Linked DNA regions of Homo sapiens: region 2 is linked to region 1. Evidence: fine-mapped expression QTL. A gene starts in region 1. The other region holds a variant in brackets. All regions are shown on one strand. Distances are between the middles of the regions. Region 1 holds the start of IGFL1 (IGF like family member 1). Region 2 holds the start of LOC124904728 (a long non-coding RNA gene).

Region 1 (4,390 bases):
GGTCCTGTTCTGTCCCAGAACTGGTGGGAGAGGGAGTGCCTCTCCGAAGCCCTCTCGCGATCCCCACCTCCTCCCCACCCCACCTGGGCTGCTCCCGATGTTGTGACTGGGTTCAGGGAGCCATGGGGTGGTGGAGGCTGGTGTAGGAGGGTGGCCCCTGTCCCAGGTGCGGCCAGGGTCCTAGTCACCGAGCACAAATAACAAAATAATAAATTTAAAAATAAATGGAAAAAGAGAAAATAAGTGTGTGCACGAACAGAACAAATGGAAAGGCCCAGATGCCTCAGGGTGACAGAGAGAAGGGGCCCCACGTCACCCTCTGTGACCCCTTTCAACAGTCCAAGCTCTCTAATTCATGAATTCTACAGCATTCATTTATAAAGTACATAAATTTATTATGATCCTGTGCTTTGCTCCTGGATAGAAGAGAACTTGAGATGATGGAAAATCTCACAGAAGGGTGAAGGGTTCCCCAGCCAGCCTTGGGGTGGTGCCGGGTTGATGTTGGCCATAGGGGTCATCAGGAGGGTTCAGAGTCCCTGGGCCCCCATCAGCACACGCATCTCATGCTGTCCAGAATTCTAGAAGGGGACCTGTGGGCCTCCTCAGGGCAGCTGCAGGGTGGGCCTCAGACAGGTCACAGAATGAAGTGGGCAGTTGAGTGTGTGTTTCTCTGGCCCCCAAACAGCCACTCAGCATCCCAGATCTCAGGTAACACCAGCCTCTTTCTCCAGGCCCACCCAGGAAGGAGAATCCAGGAGTCATCGTTCCCCTGATGTTCCATTAGCTGACACTGGAGATAGTGACAGAGAGAGACACTGAGCGGGACAGAGATGGCCAGAGATGGGGGCGAGACTGAACATGGGCAGAAATGAGGACAGGAGAGCCAGGAGGAGAGGACAGCGGGGTAGAGAGAGTGAGATTCTGAGAGGGAAATAAAAATGGATGGAGACACAGGTGTAGGGAAAGGGAGAGGTGGATTGAATAGAAGCAGGGGGCAGAGACAGGGAGACAAGGAGAATGGGGGCTCCACCCAGGGCAGAACAGGCATGCAGCTACCCTGCACCCACAATCCCACGGAGGGGACAGGACTCACCTGCGACAAAGCCTGTCATCCGAGGTCCGGGCTGAGTCGCAGTTCTGGTTTATCAGCTTCACCATGAAGGTCCAGGGGCAGCACTGCTCAAAGCAGACTCTGAAGGTGCAGTTTCCACACGTCTGGGTCCTGGCCAAGGGCACGACGGCATCATCATAGCAACAGTGCTGCAGGGGGTCGTAGAACTTGTCCCCACATCTCTTGTGTGGCTGGCACAGCATCAGGTAAGGAGTCATGGGGGCCACTGGAGGAGACAGAGCTGGTGAGATCCAGGAGGTAGTGGCAGGTGGGTCCCAGCCTGGGGTCCCCTGGAAGGTGTACCCCTCCTCCAGCTTCCCAAACACTCCTGGGCTCACCTGGGGCTCCGTGTGAGCAGAGGAGCCTGGAGATGCAGAAAATGGCAAAGACAGCTGTGGGAAAGGGAAAGGGAAGATGGGGTGAGTGGACAGCCACAGATATGACTGGCACTGACATTTAGAAGAAGACTGGGTGGAACCAGGGCTCGGTATGGCTTTGAGCAGCTCAGGGACTGAAACAGGGCTGTGGATGGGGCTGATCTGGGCACTATGGATGGGGAATTGCTGTGAGCAATTCACGCCTGGAGATTTGGCTGGGCATGGGAACAGGGATGAGGTGTAGTTTGGGGTAGGGAGAGAGCCCTGGTGGTGGCTGAGATTGGAGATGGGCTCAGGTGGGAATGGGGTCCTGTCCTCCTTACCTACGATGCAGCCTCGGGGAGCCATGGCTCTGGGTGGTTGCAGTGGAGTGAGGAGGGGATCAGCAGATCTCAGCCACTCCTTTTATCCCATATTTCTAGTGGAGCTGGTGATGTCATGGCATTTCCTGCCCTCCTGCAAGTCCTGCAGAGACAGGCTGGGTCCTTGGGCAGGAGAGGTGCCAGGCAGGGTACGTGTCATTGTAGCTTTGATCTCACCTTTGTAATCAGGAGAGAAGCGGTACACCCTCCACCTTCTCTGTGCTATGTGCCCCAATCGTCCCCCACACTGAGTCCTCTGGAAAATAGGAAGGTTCAGGATGCTCCTGGCATTAACACTCTCCGACACTCACATGTCCACACAGCGATTCCACAGGATCCTACTGAGCTATGACTTTCCTCAGTTTCCTTGGGACATTGCTAACCCATGACATCATTTCAAAGGGTCCCATTAGGTCCCAACCTCACAACCGAAACACATGGTCAAGAATCCAGTAACTTCTCAGTCACCTGCAGCTCATGGCATTCAGGTGGGAGAGACTGTGTGACTCAGGCACCTGACTTTCACAGGTTTGGAAGGTGGGAGTGGAGCTGGCGGGACCCCTGGGACTCAACACTCCTCTGGGGGCTCTTCATCTCCTTCTCTGTCTCATTAATGGTCATTTACCCAGGACAGGTCCACTTGGGAGCCTACATGTCCCAGGCTTCGTGTCAGACACCAGTGATGCAGTGCTGAGTAGAAAACGCAAAGTCAGTGTCTTCGTGACGTTCATGACAGTGAGAGGAGAGAGAGAGAGAGAGAAGGTAGGAGAATAAAACTCCTGATTTTGGTTATTGTCGTTCTTGTGTTTGGTGTCATTATCACTGTGAAGTTCTGGTGGAGAAATTCCACATCCCCCCCTGAGATTCTCAAAGGTGTTTTTCCTTAATGTGCTTTTTCAGAGGGTTGGGTTGTGATTTTCCCTGAGAAGAGCCATCTTGGGGTCAGGATGTGAGGACAGAGGGGAAGGAGCTGTTTTGGGTCAGTTCTGTGCCCCCCTACCCCTGCCCAGCTTCTGCAGGAATTCCTCCGCTCAAGCTCACAGGCCACACATGGCATGGACAAGCCGTTCTCCTCCGGGCCAGGCAAGGTGACCTGTCACCCTCTAGGCACCATGGCTGGCTCCTAGCAGGGCATGGATGTGGTTAGATTTGTGTGTGTGGAAGATCCTGCATCTGTGTTCCTGGGGAGCACGGATAGGGGCTTCTCTCTGGAGGCAGGAGACACAGGAAGAGGCTGCAGAGAAATGACTTCAATAAATACCAGAGTGCTCAGCACCCACCTTCTCCCTCGACAGAGCAGACCCTGCTTCCAGCACCATCTCCCTGTCTGCTCCCTTGGCCTCTGTTCCTTGCTGCTGTGGGGTACAGCAGTGTTTTCTAGGACACAGATTAGGATGTGCTAGTAGCATGGAAAATCAATTTACTTGGGCATAAACAATGTTATTTTTAAGTGAAGAAATGGGTTAGAAAATGGGACAGTGTGCATTCAACAGAATGCTGTGCTCAACTGTTTATGACACTTTAAAAAAAATTATTTATTTTTTTGAGATGAAGCCTTGTTCAGTTGCCCAGGCTGGAGTGCAGTTGCACGATCTTGGCTCACTGCAACCTCTGCCTGCCAGGTTCAAGTGATTCTCCTGCCTCAGTCTCTGAGTAGCTGGGATTACAGATGCCCGCCAACACACCCGGCTAATTTGTGTATTCTCCATAGAGATGGGGTTTTACCGTATTTGCCAGGCTGGTCTTGAACTTCTGACCGCAAGTGATCTGCTCACCTCAGCCTCCCAAAGTGCTGTGATTACAGGTGTGAGCCACTGCGCCCAGCCTGTTTAGGACCCTCTTATTGGGACTGTGTATATTCCAAGTAATGATAGAATATTATTATATTGTTCTATCGTATGATATTATTATATGATAGCATAGCACATATCTAGAACTAGATATCTAGTTTCTGGAGGGAGTCACAGCCAAATGGTGAGGACACTTGGGAGCACAGAAGCCTCCAGGATCATCTCCTTCTTCTCTAAGAGCCACTGACATGTCTCCCCTTTGATGTCTTCCATAAAGGGGTAGAGTTCTCAGGTCCTTGGTTCCAGGCATTTTCTGGGAGGCTGCAGTGGAGCCCTGCACTGGTCTTACTGTCTCTACCAAGAAGAGGCAAGGCTGCCTGCATATGAGCCAGAGTGAGAGAGTGGAGCACCTTCCCCAGGGCAGGGGCAAGGTGGGCACCTCTGAGGAGGGAGGAGTCCAGCTGCTCCTTCCTGGCCTCTCAGAGCAGCTGAGTCAATGCAGCATCTGGAAGGTAGAGGGAGATTTTAGCAGATCATGGAGGCCTCGGAGGCTGGGACAGTGTGAGGCCAGTGGGCACCCGTCCAGGGCTCCCTGGACACTAAGAGCCCCCAATTAGACATGAGGAGGCTTTAGGGTCAGTCAGCCCTGCGTTCAAACCCTGTCCCTGCACCTTCCTAAGGTGTCAGAAGAGTCTGTGCACACAGCCATGTCCAATCCCGCCACCAATCCCTCGGAGTCCCCCTTCC
Region 2 (4,390 bases), 22 kb before region 1:
GAGCCAACACACCTGGCCTAATTTTATATATGCAAATATATAAATATCTCTCTCTCATCAGTGGTAGAACATACATTTTTTTCAAGTCTATGTTAAACATTTATGCTAAATTGATCATATGATGGGTCATAAAGAAAGTCTCAGCTTCCAAAGGATGATTATTATTAAAAGTAGGTTTTTGAGCTGGGTGCTATGGCAGATGCCTATAATCCCAGATACTCAGGAGGCTGATGTGGGAGGATCACTTGAGCCTGAGAGTTCAAGTCTAACCTGGGCAACATAGTGATACCTCATCTCTAAAGAAATGTTCTCTGGGACTCCCAGCTTCCAGTCAAGCATGTAAGAGGCTTGGAACTCATCACTGCATCTTAACAGAAAGTGAATACTGAACAAAGAGAAAATTAACAATTCTTACATCCATTAGAGGAGTGGGATCACAGAGCAAACCACTGCCCTTAAGATTTCGAGAGACAGGCAGGTGGATACAGAGAATCAAAACTACTGCAACAGAAACCCATGACCAGAAACCCCTGTGGGAACCAGTACCAGGACAGGAAAACATGAAGTCTAATGAATGAATTCCTGGAGGCTCACGGCGGAGCAGTCTGAGAATTAAAAACTCCAGGGGGCCCAGTCTAAGGGGAGCCTCTGCATTTTTCTAAGAGTTTTACCTCCAGGAACCCTATCAGGTTCTCACAGTGAATATGGGAGAAAAATCTCCTTCATGGTCTGGCATGAAGTGGGAAGGGGGAAAGTAACCGCTGTGAAACACACCAGAGTATTCTGTTCTTCTTAACAAGCTCTGCCATTAAGAGAAAGCATTTTACCAGAATCTAAATTATTAGGGTTTTATCAGAGCCTAAATGACCTGGAGGAAGAGAGTATTATTTTTATACAGGACAGTAAACAAGTATTCTTTGCTCTAAAGGGAAACCTTACCTCTGTCTTCCAAGGCAGTACACTACACAAACATCCTTGAAAAGAGTGTGGAACAAAAGGACAGTCAATGCCTCACTGCCAGGCCAGCAAAAAAGCAAGAGATCCATGGGGAATTGTCTCTGACACTAACAAACCAATATTTTTGCAAAGTAAATAAACACATGAGCAAGGTGATAATAGTGTGCTGGAAAACGCTGCCCTGCTGCAGTGGTGACTGTGATAGTCCCGGGTGTCTGGGAAGACACGCCAGGATCACAGAGTGGGGCCTGGTTTTAGAAGAATGCAAATCTGGTCATGAGTTTCACTGCTTAAAATTATTGAGTGATGGCCAGTCGCGGTGGCTCACACCTGTAATCCCAGCACTTTGGGAGGCCGAAGGAGGGTGGATCACCTGAGGTTGGGAGTTCAAGACCAGCCTGATCAACATGGAGAAACTCCATCTCTACTAAAAATACAAAAAATAAAAATTAAAAAAAATTAGCTGGGTGTGGTGGTGCATGTCTGTAATCCCGGCTACTTGGGAGACTGACGCAGGAGAATTGCTTGAGCCTTGGAGGCAGAGGTTGTGATAAGCCGAGATGGCGCCATTGCACTCCAGCCTGGGCAACAAGAGCAAAACTCTGTCTCAAAAAAAAAAAAAAGAAAAGAAAAGAAAAGAAAAAACCAAAAAAATTATTGAACGACTCCCCACCACCGCTAGGATGAAACCCAGGCTCCCAGCTTGTCCCACAAGGCCCTTTGCTACCTGGGCCTGCCTTCCCCTCCAGCACCTTCTCTACCTACACCCACGGCGTCCCTTTTTCATCCAACCAAAGAGTCACTCCTTGAAACAGTGCAAACAGGCTTCCACAGCATGACTCACCTACCAGCACCTGCTCCCAGTAACTTAGTTCCCTTCAGGGTTTCTCTTTCTCCCAACCTTCCCACCCTGCTTCCAACTTCCCTCACTGATAGAGAATTAAGGACTCACTCTATGCATCCCATAGGACTCACGCTTACCTCTCTCATTGTCTTGTCTTGCCATTGGTCACTCTCCTGGGTATTTGCCCAACCCAAATTCACCCTAAATTATTAGAGATATGCATGCAAAGCATAAAACTTTCAGCACATGGTTTTTGAAAATTAAAAATAAAAATCTCCTTCCCCTCCTTTTACCTCCCCCCTCATTTGCTCGTTTGCACTCCTCAGAGACCAATGCTGTTAGCAGTTTCTGCCTTCGGTACCTTTGAAGTTTCCTATCATACTCTCATAATTCTCTCTCGTGACTTTAGGGACCCAGGTTTACCATTACTAGTTGTGGCATTTCAAAACGTACTTAACCTCTCTGAGCTACAGTTTCCTCTTTAAGCACAATGAAATGAGGACGTATAAGCATCCAGTAAAGTCAACGTGTTTGTAAATATCATGTAAACTGGGAACCCCACACATATGTTGGGTCATAAAGAAAGTCTCAGCTTGCAGAGGATGAACATTATTAAAAGTAGGTTTTTGAGCCGGTGCTATGGCACATGC[T/C]TATAATCCCAGATACTCAGGAGGCTGATGTGGGAGGATCACTTGAGCCCAAGAGTTCAAGTCTAACCTGGGCAACATAGTGAGACCTCATCTCTAAAGAAATGTTCTCTGGGACTTCCAGTTTCCAGTCAAGCATGTAAGAAACTTGGAACTCATCACTCCATCTTAACAGAAAGTGAATACTGAACAAAGAAACAATTAACACTTCTTCTTATATCCATTAGAGGAGTGGGGTCACAGGGCAAACCACTGCCCTAAGATTTGTTGACACAGGCAGGTGGATACAGAGAATCAAAACTACTGCAACAGAAACCCATGACCAGAAACCCCTGTGGGAACCAGTACCAGGATAGGAAAACATGAAGTCTAACGAATGAATTCCTGGAGGCTCAGGGTGGAGCAATCTGAGAATTAAAAATTCCAGGGGGCCCAGTCTAAGGGGAGCCTCTGCACTTTTCTAAGAGTTTTACCTCCAGGAACCCTATGAGGTTCTCACAGTGAATACCGGAGAAAATGTCCTTCATGCCCTGAGTTTTGAGCTGTCTGAGAACATGACAGCCCTGGAACAGGTCCAGTAGCATCCTACTAATGTGTCAATGCTTTTATTTTGTTATGCTTTCTGTGGCTTTTCATGCCCCACCCTTTTTAAGAAACCACTCCTTCTGCACACCTCCCTAAATATGGGTAAGTTCATACCCTATAATAATCTCCTGTGTAAAGTCACTGACCCATTTCCACTGCTGCTCTCTCATCTGCTGCTCTGAAGCCTAAACCATGGTGCCCAGAATCTTCGGTAAGTCATCCCCAGCCCCAAGCTGAGCTAATGCCTAATGTTATCCCTAAGGTACCTCTGAACTTCAAACTTAATTTTCTCTTTTCTGTTTAATTCTCGGTTTCCCACCTCATAATCACCCGTGTCCTCTCTGACTGCATTGCAATCTCTCTCCCCACCTGCAAATTCCAGAAGCTTAACCCTTTCCAGAGCCCTCCCTGCATTTCCTCACCTGCCAAGCCCAGTCCCCAGGACCTACATCCAGAGTCAGTCCCAAAATCCACTGTGAGCTGTTACAGCAACCAAAGAAACTCAGAGACATCATCTTGTGCCCCAATGATCATGATCCGGTGACCCCAGAAACATTGTCATTCTCCTTCTGCTCTCAGCTGATCTTTGTTTTTGAACTCCTGGGCTCAGACTCAGAAGGGACCACAGATGAGAAGGGGTGTGGTGAGCGGAGGGAGAAGAGAGGAGGGAGGATTATAGCACTGTGGATAGGGTTGGGGGCTCCCAGAGGTCCCCTGTCAGCTCATCAGCTCTGACTCTTCCAGATATTGGACTGTGGTTGTGCCAGTTGACACTCCAGAGTGGAGACCAGATCTGCAATCTCTTGGGGCTGTAATAAGGGGATCATCCTGTCCTTGAACAAGACCCAGCTCTGTGGTCCTAACTGCACTTCTGGCCCTGCTTCCAGCACTGCTGACTGGAGCCCCTGGGCTCTCAGCACCAGGCAGTAGTGAGGCTCCATGTCCCAGGAGTGAGGCCTGACTACCCCAGGAGTGTGCTCAAGTAAGGGCAGCCCAGGCGGTGGACAGAGTTTTGTTGTGTGTATTCCATCAAGGTGAGCAATGCCTGCTGTGTTCACTAGCTTCTTTTTGCGCAACCATCAATCTCTCTCTCTCTCTCTCTCCCCCTCCACTGCCCCACTCTCCTCTCTTCCCCTCCCTGTCTTTTCCCTCCTCTCCTTCCTTCTCTTCCTCTCTCAAGTTGAAAGAAGAGTAGCTCAGTCATCTTCCAGAATTGCTTTTTAGCTCCGAGTCACCTGGCTCCACAGCCCCCGACCACTGTATGCCTACTTAGCTGTTCCTCCCCTTCCCCTCTACCCTCACCCTTGGCAACTACCAGTCGGCTTTCCATCTGTATGGATTTACCTATCTGGGACAT

What was found. PIP is the estimated chance that this variant, and not a neighbour inherited with it, causes the effect.
Region 2: its variant is the best candidate, but not a certain one, in a credible set for the expression of IGFL1 in unexposed skin (GTEx, PIP 0.63).

What each region holds. Positions count from the first base shown.
Region 1 is chr19:46,227,224-46,231,613 of GRCh38, reverse strand. IGFL1 (IGF like family member 1) reads right to left here and starts at 1,872. Exons shown (of 4, transcript NM_198541.2): 1 at 1,815-1,872; 2 at 1,453-1,506; 3 at 1,097-1,340; 4 at 371-793. The coding sequence starts at 1,839. The coding sequence ends at 784. RefSeq lists an enhancer at 1,325-2,524.
Region 2 is chr19:46,248,999-46,253,388 of GRCh38, reverse strand. LOC124904728 (a long non-coding RNA gene) reads left to right here and starts at 3,182. Exons shown (of 2, transcript XR_007067273.1): 1 at 3,182-3,244. The variant T/C (reference allele first, on the strand shown) is at 2,452.